Homo sapiens: one gene and its partners. The protein of the gene in region 2 interacts with the protein of the main gene of each other region in a biochemical or structural test. Each region holds a gene or a part of one and is shown on either strand. Other genes may lie near its edges.

What was found.
Region 1: of the proteins of MARK2 (region 2) and RAB11FIP2, one has a biochemical effect on the other in vitro, tested with the Homo sapiens proteins (one study listed by BioGRID).
Region 3: the proteins of MARK2 (region 2) and CD44 form a complex in vitro, tested with the Homo sapiens proteins (one study listed by BioGRID).

Annotation. Positions count from the first base shown.
Region 1 is NC_000010.11:118,045,457-118,049,203, forward strand, and holds the start of RAB11FIP2 (rab11 family-interacting protein 2), read right to left. Parts: upstream 1,486-3,747; 5' UTR 708-1,485; coding exon 355-707; intron 1-354. UniProt on the Homo sapiens protein: A Rab11 effector binding preferentially phosphatidylinositol 3,4,5-trisphosphate (PtdInsP3) and phosphatidic acid (PA) and acting in the regulation of the transport of vesicles from the endosomal recycling compartment (ERC) to the plasma membrane.
Region 2 is NC_000011.10:63,837,013-63,840,759, reverse strand, and holds the start of MARK2 (serine/threonine-protein kinase MARK2), read right to left. Parts: upstream 1,651-3,747; 5' UTR 1,254-1,650; coding exon 1,200-1,253; intron 1-1,199. UniProt on the Homo sapiens protein: Serine/threonine-protein kinase. Involved in cell polarity and microtubule dynamics regulation. Phosphorylates CRTC2/TORC2, DCX, HDAC7, KIF13B, MAP2, MAP4 and RAB11FIP2. Phosphorylates the microtubule-associated protein MAPT/TAU.
Region 3 is NC_000011.10:35,137,518-35,141,264, reverse strand, and holds the start of CD44 (CD44 antigen isoform 1 precursor), read right to left. Parts: upstream 2,095-3,747; 5' UTR 1,962-2,094; coding exon 1,895-1,961; intron 1-1,894. UniProt on the Homo sapiens protein: Cell-surface receptor that plays a role in cell-cell interactions, cell adhesion and migration, helping them to sense and respond to changes in the tissue microenvironment.

The DNA of each region.
Region 1 (3,747 bases), on a different chromosome or scaffold from region 2:
GATAATTGTAAGGTTTAAAATCCATAACAATTTATATGAAGTTCTAGTTGGTCAATACTGTGATCCAGTCCTCATACTGAAACAATGTTAACTTACTTAAAATCCACCACAAAATATTCAATTATTTGACAGATGTTTAACAGAAAGAATAAGGGATCATTAATGATTCCATTTAAAAAATATTTCATCACGAGTGCTACTTTTACTTCAGATTCATGCAAATATGGTGCTTAAAACTGGATCATATTTCAATCCAAAAACCAACGCCCGAAGTATACGGATAATTTCCAAGAACAGAAAAACCATAAATAAGATATAAACTCCCCCAAATTCAAAATAAATTACATAACTTACTCTGTTTTCCTTCTTTGTTTGTCCTCAAAGATGTCATTGAGATTGATTGCCACCTGCCCTAAAAATTTATCCAGACCCACCAGGGACCTGTGCATAACTATAAGGAAAAGAATGTATTTCTCTGGACTTCCCTGAATTAGCAATCCAGGTAGCTCGAAAGAGGCCTCCTCCTTCCAAACTGGCTCAAGGGTTTTCTCAGCTACAGAGGTGGAGTACTTTTCCTTGCCCAGCTGAATTATAGTGTATGTGTCATTGGTACCACTTTTGCCTTTTGGCTTCAGATCTTTGGCTTGGAGCACTGTGACCTGCACGTGGGTTGGAAACCACTTTTGGGCTTGCTCGGACAGCATCATCCTGTCCTGTTTCTCTGCCCCCGAGTTCCCTAGCACAGGCAGTGCCCCTCCCGGAGGGAGAGCCTAATTCCTTAATCACTGCATCCTAAGGACACTTAACGGAAACAGGCAGGCTCAGGGCTCCCCGACTTCCCTATGGCTGATGTCAAAACGCCTCGCGGGGGCAGCCCAGGGGCACGGCCGCTCCGGGGGTCCCCTTTCGTCTGGAGAAACACAGAGGCCCACCATCACCTGGCCGCGCCGTGCAGGCCTCTGCGCGGACCCCCGCCCCTGTCTCCACCTTCCCCAGGCCTGCGGGGCACGTGAGGCCTGGCCACACGGACCCGGGCGGAGGGCTGCGGGGGTGAAGGGAGCCCCCGCCCCAATTCTGCACCCCTGGCCTCCCGCCTGCCTCCTTGCGGCCGAGCAGCCTCCGCTGCCTCCGCGCCTCCCGCCCGCCCGGCGTTCGTCCGCAGGCTCGGCCCGGCTCCTCCTCCCGACCCCGGTAATACGAACCGCCGGCGGCTAACGCGGCCTCGCTCCCTCTCGCAAACCTCTCCCTCCTCCTCCTCCCCCTCGCCTCAGCTCCTCCTCTCGGGCGGGAGCGGGTAGCCAGGGGTGGAGTGGGGGAGGGCGGGGAACGCGGCCGCCCCGGCGCCGGCGGGACGTGGGGCGGGCAGCGGGCTGCAGGGCTGCGGGCGCTTGGTTCGGCCTGGCCCGGCCGGCGGCTCCTAACACCGGGCGGGCGGCTGCGGCGGCACTTCCGGGTTGGCCTTCTCCATGTTGGTCTCGGGAACGTGAAGGGGCGGGGCCTCGAGGTCAGGGGTCAGCACCTCCCTGGTTGCCGTGGCGACTGGAGGCGCGCGACGCGGGCGCAATGGCGGGGACCCGGGGCTTGATGCTGCTTGGGCCTGGCCCAGTGGCGGGTCCTAGGGACGTGGGTACCTGCAGAGGCCGGCAGGTGAGCCCTGGGGAGGGCTGGGGACCGCTCGTGAGAGGAGGTCATCAAAGACCCGGAGACGCCCCTAACTAGGGCGTCTTTGAGGGCAGGGGATCTGTGTTCGCTGTGTCCTGGATGCCCAGTGCCTGGCAGGAGCAGGTCCATAAATGGTGTTGGAACGAATCAGGCCTCTTCACTGACCGAAAGGAAACTTTTCTCCAATCTCCTATCCACCCTTCTCTTTTTGAAAAGTCCGTAAATTGACTGAAAATGACATCCCCCACCCAGACGAAGGGCGATAGGGAAGCAAATAGTTTCCACAGGGAGTAGAGATGTAGGGAGGCACTGGGCTGGCATCAGAAGACCTGGTTCCGGCCGCGCCTCTGCCGCTATCAGTGTGTGTGACCTTGGCCGAGTCATTTCACCTCCATGAGCCTCAGTGTTTTCACGAGTAAAAAAGCCAGTTCTACCTCATGTCTAAGACTCCATCACGACTCTATGGGCTCGACGTCAAAAGGACCCCCGTGGGGACTCACACTGTGGTGGACTGTGCAAATCATGTGGAGACCATGCCCCAAACACGGGTTTCGAGTTTCAGGGGATAATACATGTGCCTTTCCTAGCACAATGCGGCACATAAATCTCCTTTTGCCCCTCTATTTCTCAATTGGAAGAGACGCTTATGTACCACCCCATTGCTGTTAATTCTGTTCGTGTCTTACCTTCCCAAGGAAATTCTAAGTTTTGGGACTGCCTTGTCTATCATGCAGTCCCTTCATAGTGGCTAGCATGCAGCAGACAATTTACTGAATTACTTAATGCCTTTTTTCCCTTTACAAGACTAATTTTGAGAGTAAAACAATATGATACATGTAAATGCACGTTTTTTTAACTTAAATGGCCATAAACATGTAAAGTATCGTGTTTATTATTTTCAAGCAAGGTTTAAAACTTCTCATTCAAGGCAGAATTTTTCATCCCTGGGAGACAGTGTATGAAAAGGCCATGTGTGGAAAACAGAACAAAATCATCGTACTGCGAATATAGCATCTGGATCCCAGAGTGCACAGTTGTCAACTTTAAAGAAAAATATTCTTAGGGATTTTTAAACAGTACGTTGGAACAGTCAATGGTGGAATTTCACCAGGATCTCTAAGGAGAAATAATTTGACACCTGAAACTTACAAAAACCAAATAAACATCATGAAATCAAATTTAATTAAGTTTAGAGTTCTTATACATTTTAAAAGTCTTCATGTCTCTATTAAAGGTTGTAATTAAACAATAGAAAATTATAATAGTGGATGTGTATTTCTGAAGAGCTTAAATTGGTAAGCTTTATTAATGATTATAAACTTGTTTACAAATATAATTTCACTCATCTCTGAAATATAGCCATCTCTAGGGTAGAAGTTGGCAGCAGTAGTTCACAGCAACTCAATAACATACTCCAACACAACTCAGAGAATACTCTAAAGGCAAGAGCTGAACAATTGGAATTACTAACCTCTCTTTCTGTAGCACCTAAATTTCTTTTGAGTTTTCCCAACAGCTGGCTAGAGCCAAAATTGTTTAGTTTTACTGGTGAAATCAGAAATTATGACTTAAAATTTTTTAAGCCAGAATAAGAAAATAACATATTTTTGCCCCCGGGGAAAGCAAATAAACAAACAAACCAAATGAGCTAAATAGAATCTGGGATTGCATTATAATAAGGAAATGACTTCCTATAGAATGTTTTCCTTTTTTGATTATATTAAGAGAATAAAAATATGACAGTGGAGTCAAAGATATGGTTGGCTTATAGTGAAAAATAATGACAATTACATAAGATCTGGGATCAAAGTGCTTCTCCCAAAATGTTTATTGTTTTACAGTTTTAAAAATTCTTTTGACTAATTCTAAGATATACATGGACAACAATTTAAAAAGGAAAGGATTGCGTGTGTAAGGACAACATACCAGAATTGAAGAGAGTCACTTTTTAAAAAATTATCCTATGACTAATGATACATCCGGAAATGTATGGTACAATTCCAAAATCAAAGTCTTGGGAAAATAATATATTTTAGAAGGAAAATGCTGAACATTCTAATTTTAAACTGTTAACAATGCCTACAG
Region 2 (3,747 bases):
TAGGAACAGAATGGATCCAAGCACGGTGTGGGGATACACAGGACATGAAGAAGGCAGGAGACTAATGCGGAGATGAAAGGCAACGCTGATTAAAAGGCACAGTAAGGAAGATGGGGTGAGGGTGGAGAAACAGGAAGGCAACAAGCAAGAAAGAAAATACTCTAAGTGCCAGGCACGGGAGTGAAGACACAGAAAGTCATCATGGTTTGTGTTCCAGCGTACGAAGACAGAAAGGCAAAAACTGTGATGCAGCGAGGTCTGGGAAAGGACTGAGCAACAGGTTGTGTTAATACGGTGGGGCCAAGTGTCTTTGGGTTGGGAGAAAGAGCCCAGTAGAAGGCTGGTAGAACACTCACAGAGAGAAACAAGAGGCCCAGGGACCTAAAAGCCAAACCCGAGGGGAAGAGAACAAGAGGGATCCAAAGACTCTGAAGGGAGTGATGATTGGAACCCCAAACGCAACCTGTGGGAAAACTATGCGCATGACAGCTGTGGGGAAACACGGAAGCGACAAATGCCAGCGCCAGGATCCAGGGAGCTCCTGGAGCAAAGAAGGGAAAGTGATGAGCAAAGAGTAGGCGAAGGATTTGGAAAGGTGATGAGGGTGGAGCTGGTGGGTTGCAAGCAAGAGGGAGAGCACAATTTGGAAAACGAAGAAGCAGGGTAGAAAAAGCTGGGGGAACTGCAAGGGGCCAGGGATCGAGAGCGCAGTCCAGGGCAAGGACCCTGAGGGTGATAACCCAGAGACTGGCAGAACCGGTGCGGGCGGAGGGGAAGCGAGGCAGGAGAGACGAAGGGAGAGGTGGACAACGATCTGTGGCAAATCGCGGGGTGCTGCTATTCGAGGAGCGGGAGGGTGGCTGCTTTAAGCGTGGGTGGAGGAAGACCAGAAAGGCCCCTGAGAGAAAAAGGGAAGAGAAAGGGAAGCTGGGGAGGTGACACGGAAGAGCGCAGGAGGGCGGTGAGGGGAGACGGGGGTTGGCAGAAAGACAAGTGTGCAGCTTGGAGTCAGGACGAGGTGGGTCCCAGGTCAGGACTCGGAAGCGGGATGTGCGGAGCCGGAGCCAGGAGCCGGATGACAGGGCAGCCGAGGCTTGCAGGATGGCAGCAGGGGCACGAGGAGAGCAGAAGAGGGAGGAGGCTCCGCAAGGTGCAAAGGGCCCAGCCAGAGAATTCGGGGAGCCCTCGGGGCTCCTTACCTGCTCCGTGTCCCTCTCGTTCAGCGTGGGTAGGGGGGTCCGAGCGCTGGACATGGCGCCGGTATCTCGGGGGAGGGAACCGAGAAGCTTGGAGGAAGGGAGGGAAGGGAAGGCGCGGAGCCCGGCCGGGCGGGGCTTCTCACAGCAGGAGCACCCGCCGCATGGGCCCCGGCCGGGGGTGCGGGGAGGCCGGGCAGCCGCTCACGCCAGCCCGGGGATGCGCCGCTCGGGCTAGGCCGCGCCGGCTCCGAGCGGCTCCGGACCGCACCCCCCCGACCCCCGGCTGGGCTGTGCCGCCTTTCGGCCGGGCCGCGCCGCTCCGCCTACTCTCTGCCGCCGCAGCCGGCCGCCTGCCTCGCTCCTCCCCTGCCCTCAGCGGCACTGCTCCGCGCCCGGCACACAGGCAGCCGCCGCCGGACCTGCTGCTCCCAACATGGCCGCCACCACCGCCGGCCCTCGGCTCTTTTCGCCGGCAGCAGCCGGAAACATCCGAAGCGGCTAGAAACGGGAGGTGGGGCGCGCCTTCTCCTCCCGGCCACAGACTACGGGTGAATTCCGGAAACAGCCGAAGAAGGTAAACCCCGGGGACGCGCTCTCCTCCTCGATTCCGAAGACGAAGCTTCGGCTCTGTTTACGGAAATCCACGAAGCGACCCCGGGTGCCTACCCCCCGCCCCCGTCCACGGCCATCCAGCCACGCCCACCGGCCTTTCCCCGCCCACTTCAAGGGGGCTTTCGGCAGTTTCCGGAAATACCCGAAGCTGCTCCGCGTGCTGAGCCGGCCACGCCCCCTCCCACAGCCCTGCCGAGGGCGGTCGTCGGCCATTTCCGGCAACACCCGAGGCCCTCCGAGCACCCGGTCGTTTCCCCGGGTGGCTCTCGGAGTCTGATTCGCTTCGTGTCTTTCCGTCAGTTTTCGGGCATTTTCAAACCTTGAACAGGAAGCGTGGGTCACCTGTCTGTGCTTGTGATTTGACTAAATACAAAACAAGATTGTTAGCCGTCCCTGTGATTGGCATCCTCTGGTTCTATAGCAGCTTCCTGTCTGCATTTCTGTCCATCTGTCGGTCAGCTCATAAAATTCATCTTCTTTTTATCATCTAGCCTATCAATATACCTGTCAAATGCAGCATCAGTCTATTGCCTGTCTGCCACCGTCTATCTTGGCTTCTGTGGATTCATCCGTGCATTCCCGCATCTAGTCCGCAGGGCTCGGCAAGGCCCCAGGCAGGCCCAGGGCAGCGTCCTCTGCACCGGATGCGGGAGCGTCCAGGGCCCTGCATTTCAGCCCCAGCTCTGCCAAGTGCCAATGCTGCGTGATCTTGGAAAAATCACATAACATCACTGAGTTTAGGCTCCTCTTTCCTTTGCCTTTGCTCCTGCGTTGACATTCAAAATGACATTTCTGAATTCCAGTTACCTTTTAAAATGCCTCTGCAAGATAAGGCATTTAAAGTTTCTTTTCTTTCCTCCTCTGGGCCTCATTTTCCCCATCAGTAAAGTGAAGCCATTGGATTCATGAACTCGGAGGTCCTTCTCAGCTTTGGAGAGCCCTTGACTAACAGGAAGTCTGTATGGCAACTGCAGTCCATTCCTCACTTCCCCTTACACTGCGTTACCAAGGACAGGGAGTATCCTGGGCTGATTTCCCCAGCGCCAAGCTGTCCTCACCCATAGTACCTGGAACACGTTGGAACCACACCCTCCCATCAGTGGCTTAAGGTGGGCAGGAGGCAGAGGCCCCGCAGGAGTCAGAAACCAGACTCAGGCAACAGGTTCCCAAAGGTACAGGAGCAGAGAGGCTCCAGGAGTTATTGGGAAAACTGCTGATTGGACCCCTGCTACTTGACCTCCAACTCCCAGCTACAGCATCTTGAGCCAGCCTTCATCCCATCAATCAGAGAAATAGGCATCTGAGCAGATGTAATTACCAGGGTATGAAAGTACTTCCTAAGGCAACAGGTATCACTACACTCTTAGTAAATCCTGGGACTTCAGCACTGCTCCCCATGCCCCATACCAGCTCTATTCAGGCACCCAACCGTTGAGGAAGAAGGTGAAGGCACACCCATGAAGGTGAGGGAAAGAGAGAAGAGGAGGACAGAGAACACCTCACTCCCCAACCCAAATTCGATCCTTGAGAATCATCTGCCCTCTGGTGGCCAAAGGGAGACACGTTGCTGATTCCTGTGCCTGGTATCACCTCTAATGCCAGGGTCTGGAAAGCAGGGAAAAGAGAGAGGAAGCAGTTGGTGGTTGGTGTTCCAGCAGTCTCTCCCTGGTCCACACTCTCGTCTAAATAGACTCCATCTTCTCCAAGCTTCTCACTCTAGCTCTAACCCCTGCCTCACCCCTGCCCTTTGACCTTCATCCCCAACCCCTACCCTACCTATCCTTTCTCTTCCTTGCTAGCTTTGCACAAGGCTGCTGAGCTTGTCTCCCCGCCTAGACTCCCTCCAACCTACTGCACCAGACATGTCAGAATAATCTTCCCAAAGTCCAGCTCCAATAACATCTCTGCTCTGCTAGAAAGCTATCACCAGCTCCCT
Region 3 (3,747 bases), about 29 Mb from region 2:
TTTGGAGCTCAGTGGAGCTGGGTTTCCATCCAGCACTGCTCCTGGCTATGTGAATGCCAGCAAGTCACTTAACGTCTCTAAGCATCAGTTTTCCTCCTGTCAAACAGGCCTGATAACAGGAAGCTTCTTACTAGGCCATTGTGAGGGTAGAATGAGATAACACATGGAAAATATTTAACATAATGCCTGGCACAGTGAAAATATACAGTAAATGGTAGCTAGCACTGTATTCATTTTTTTTTTTTTAACAGAGTCACGCTTTGTCACCCAGGCTGGAGTGCAATGGCATAATCTTGGTTCACTGCAACCTTCACCTCCTAGGTTCAAGCAATTCTCCTGCCTCAGCGTCCCAAGCAGCTGGGACTACAGGTGTGCACCACCACACCCTGCTAATTTTTGTATTTTTTGTAAAGATGGGGTTTCACCATGTTGGCCAAGGCTGGTCTCAAACTCCTGACCTTGGGTAATTTGCTGCCTCAGCCTCCCAAAGTCCTAGGATTACAGGCATGGGCCACCATGACAGGCTGTGTTGTTGCTATCATTATTATTATTATTTCAGCTTCAGTAGTATAAATCCTAGATCCCCAAATCCCCACCTAGCAAAGACCTCTCACTCACACAGAAAGGGAGATGCATATGCACAGAGAACTCATCCTGCCTAGCCTCCACCTAGGGTCACTTTCTTCCTACTGCAGAAAGTAGGAAGATAGAGAAAGCAGAAAGTAATTCAAGATACTTTATACTGGGTACTCAATCTAAACTACCTGGGTGAGACTGTGTGTTTCAATTTCTCAGTACTCCCGTGGAACTGGGTTAATAAATATTTGCTGAGTAGAATTTACTGCATGCAGGCTGAGCTGTCTTAATGACCCAGCTGGCACTTCTTAAAAGAAAGATTAATTTTGGCCAGCGATAAGCAAATCGGCCATGTAATTATCTGTACATACATAGACAAAGAAAGAGAATGCTTGGAGTTGAGCCGTGCTAGAATATACCTTACACGCAGCCCCTCCCCTCCATAGCCACCACAAAGCACTGACCCTGTTTGGATGAGATATTGGAGCCCTAGCTCCAGGGTCCCTGATGTTGCCCTGGTATCAAGGCTCTTCTCTCTGCTCTGAGGCTGCCAGGCAGGGAATATAAGCCACCTTACTGTTGAGATTTCCCCACACTGATTGGCAGAAGCAGGAGGTGGTGAGGACCAAGCAGCTGGTCCAGTGGTTGCCTCTCATATTCATGCTCCCTATCCCAGGCTGGAATCTCATGGAGACCCAAGACCTCACCGCAGAGCTGGTTCAAGCTTCCACAGCGCTAAGGTGGCAGTGACACTGCGGACTGTAAGCTTTGGAACAAGGCTCAGTGGGGAGCTGGGAGAACCCAGGACCCCTTTCTGGAAAACCCATTGCCAGCTAGTCTCACACTTGGAATTGTGATCCCTTCTGTGACCACCTTGATAACAGCCACTCGCCCTGTTCCAGCCCCAGTCTCTGCCCCGCCCAGCTCTGCCCTGCCTAGACACAGCCCGGTGGGGCTTGGCGAGCCCTTGGGCACAGGAGCCTGTTAGTCCAGACAACGACTGTGCGCATCCGGGAGAACGGTTACTTTCTGCCATGTGCTGCAGCTCTAGCGACCTCGCCCAAAACTGCGCGCCGGCAGCCTGCCCAACAAACTTTCTTCTCTTTCTCTTTTTCTTTCAACCAAATGGTGCTTCCACAGACACATTCTCCAACGGTTTAGCGCAAATCCCAGCCCTGCTTTCCGGAGCCCAATGCACTTCGCAGACAGCTCACTTGACTCCAGTCCCCCAGGGCCGACTCAGCCGGAGGGGCTGCCGCCGGGTCCGCGCTGAGCACCCCGCACCCATCTTGCTGCCCAGGCTGCGGCGGGCACTCACCGATCTGCGCCAGGCTCAGCGGCACGAGGCAGAGTCCCCAGGCTGCGTGCCACCAAAACTTGTCCATGGTGTCCGGAGCGAACGGAGGGCGCGGGCGAAAGGAGCTGGAGGATCCCTGGGCGCGGGGCAGGGGCCGGCGGAGGACGGGACGAGGATGGCGGACCGAACCTGGCAGAGGCTGGGGTCCGCTGGGCAATGAGGCTGCCTCGGAAGTTGGCTGCAGTTTTTATTCGAGGTTGAAAACAGTGACCTAAGACGGAGGGAGGGAGCGAGCGAAGGACACACCCAAGCAAGGGGGGCTGTGACTAAGCAGCCCGCAGAGGTTTTAAGAAGTAGCAGCCCTCCCGGGCGGGCCCCTCTGCCCCCGCCCCGTGCTCTGCTGAGGCTGTAAATAATCGGGGCTGCCAGGGACGTGGGTCGGGGAACCTGGAGTGTCGCGGGGTGCCTGTGCCTCCGAGCCCCACTGGCCCCTGCGCCCAGAGACGCACTGGCTTTCTTCTCCCGCTGGCCCCGCGGCGTCAGGACAGAGGATGACCGAACCGTAAAACCTTGCACCATTGGGTTCAGCCTTTGGCCTCTCCTTTCCCGCTAAATTTCTCTGAATCCGGCTGGAGCAAGATCTCTGGGTTTCACAGGATGTTGGATATCCTGGGAGAGGAGCTGGAGAGAGGGCGAGGTCTTGCCCTGGGTGGCGCAGTGCCTCCGTGCCCACAGTGGGGAGTGAGGGGTGGGGAGTTGGTGAATCTTCCAAGTGGAAAGAGGGAGAGCTCATTCTTTTTCCCCTCAATAACAAGTCCACATGGCTTGAATGAATTTTAGCTTCTTGGCAGAACAGCTCAGGGAAAGCTACTGATGGCCTGTCATAGGGCTGGCATTTGGCTCAGCTAACCCATGTGTTCAAGCCAGTGTGAATGGGCACCTCTCTCCACACACATGCTCATTCATCCTCCTAAATATCCTTCCATCCGCCCATCCATCTATCCACCCATCTTTCCTTATGTCCTTCTGGGGCTCTCACATCCATCCATCCTCCTGTCCATCCACTAACCACTTAGGTCCATCTATCATCCCACTCATTCATTCATCCAACCACACACCTTTTAATTTATTCAACCACCTATTCTTCTATTCATCTTCCCATACAACTTCTCATCCATCATTCCACACTTCCTTTTTCACATCTCTTCATAAAACCACAACCATCCACCATCCTCTTCTCCACCCATCCACCCACATATCTGTTTATTGATATATCCACTCATTTCCCATCTGTCCAAGATCAACATATCCACCTATCATTTTATCCATTCTCTCATCCACCCATACGTTCATCTATTATTTTTGCCCCCATTATCCTCCTTTCTGTGTAAACATTAATTCATTTTCTCCCATCTTTCCTACCCAGCAGATCTTAAAGAGAGGAAGAGTTTGTAATATTCTTCAGGGGAAGCCTTTTGAGATTGAAATATCATACTTTGAATGATAACTCTATATCTATCTATAATATACTATGGTTTAATGTTTGGAAATCAAACGCAGTATTTATTTGTCATGTGAACTACTAAAAGTAAATCTGCATGGACTTCTTGCCTGGTGAGTTACACAGAAAATGAAAGTGATTATCAGTGGCTGTGGCAAGATGAAAGGAACCATGCCAGGACTTCTGAGGGAAGGTAAGATTTTGTTATTTATTTCAAGAAATTGAAAAGTTGAGAGAAATGCACCCAGCCATCCCCCTATGCATTCATTCATCAGACATGTAATGAGTGTTGTGGGGTATCGAGGTAAATAAGACCTGGCGCTATCTTCAGAGCCCTCACCCTCTGGTACGGAATAAAACTCACAAGCAGGCC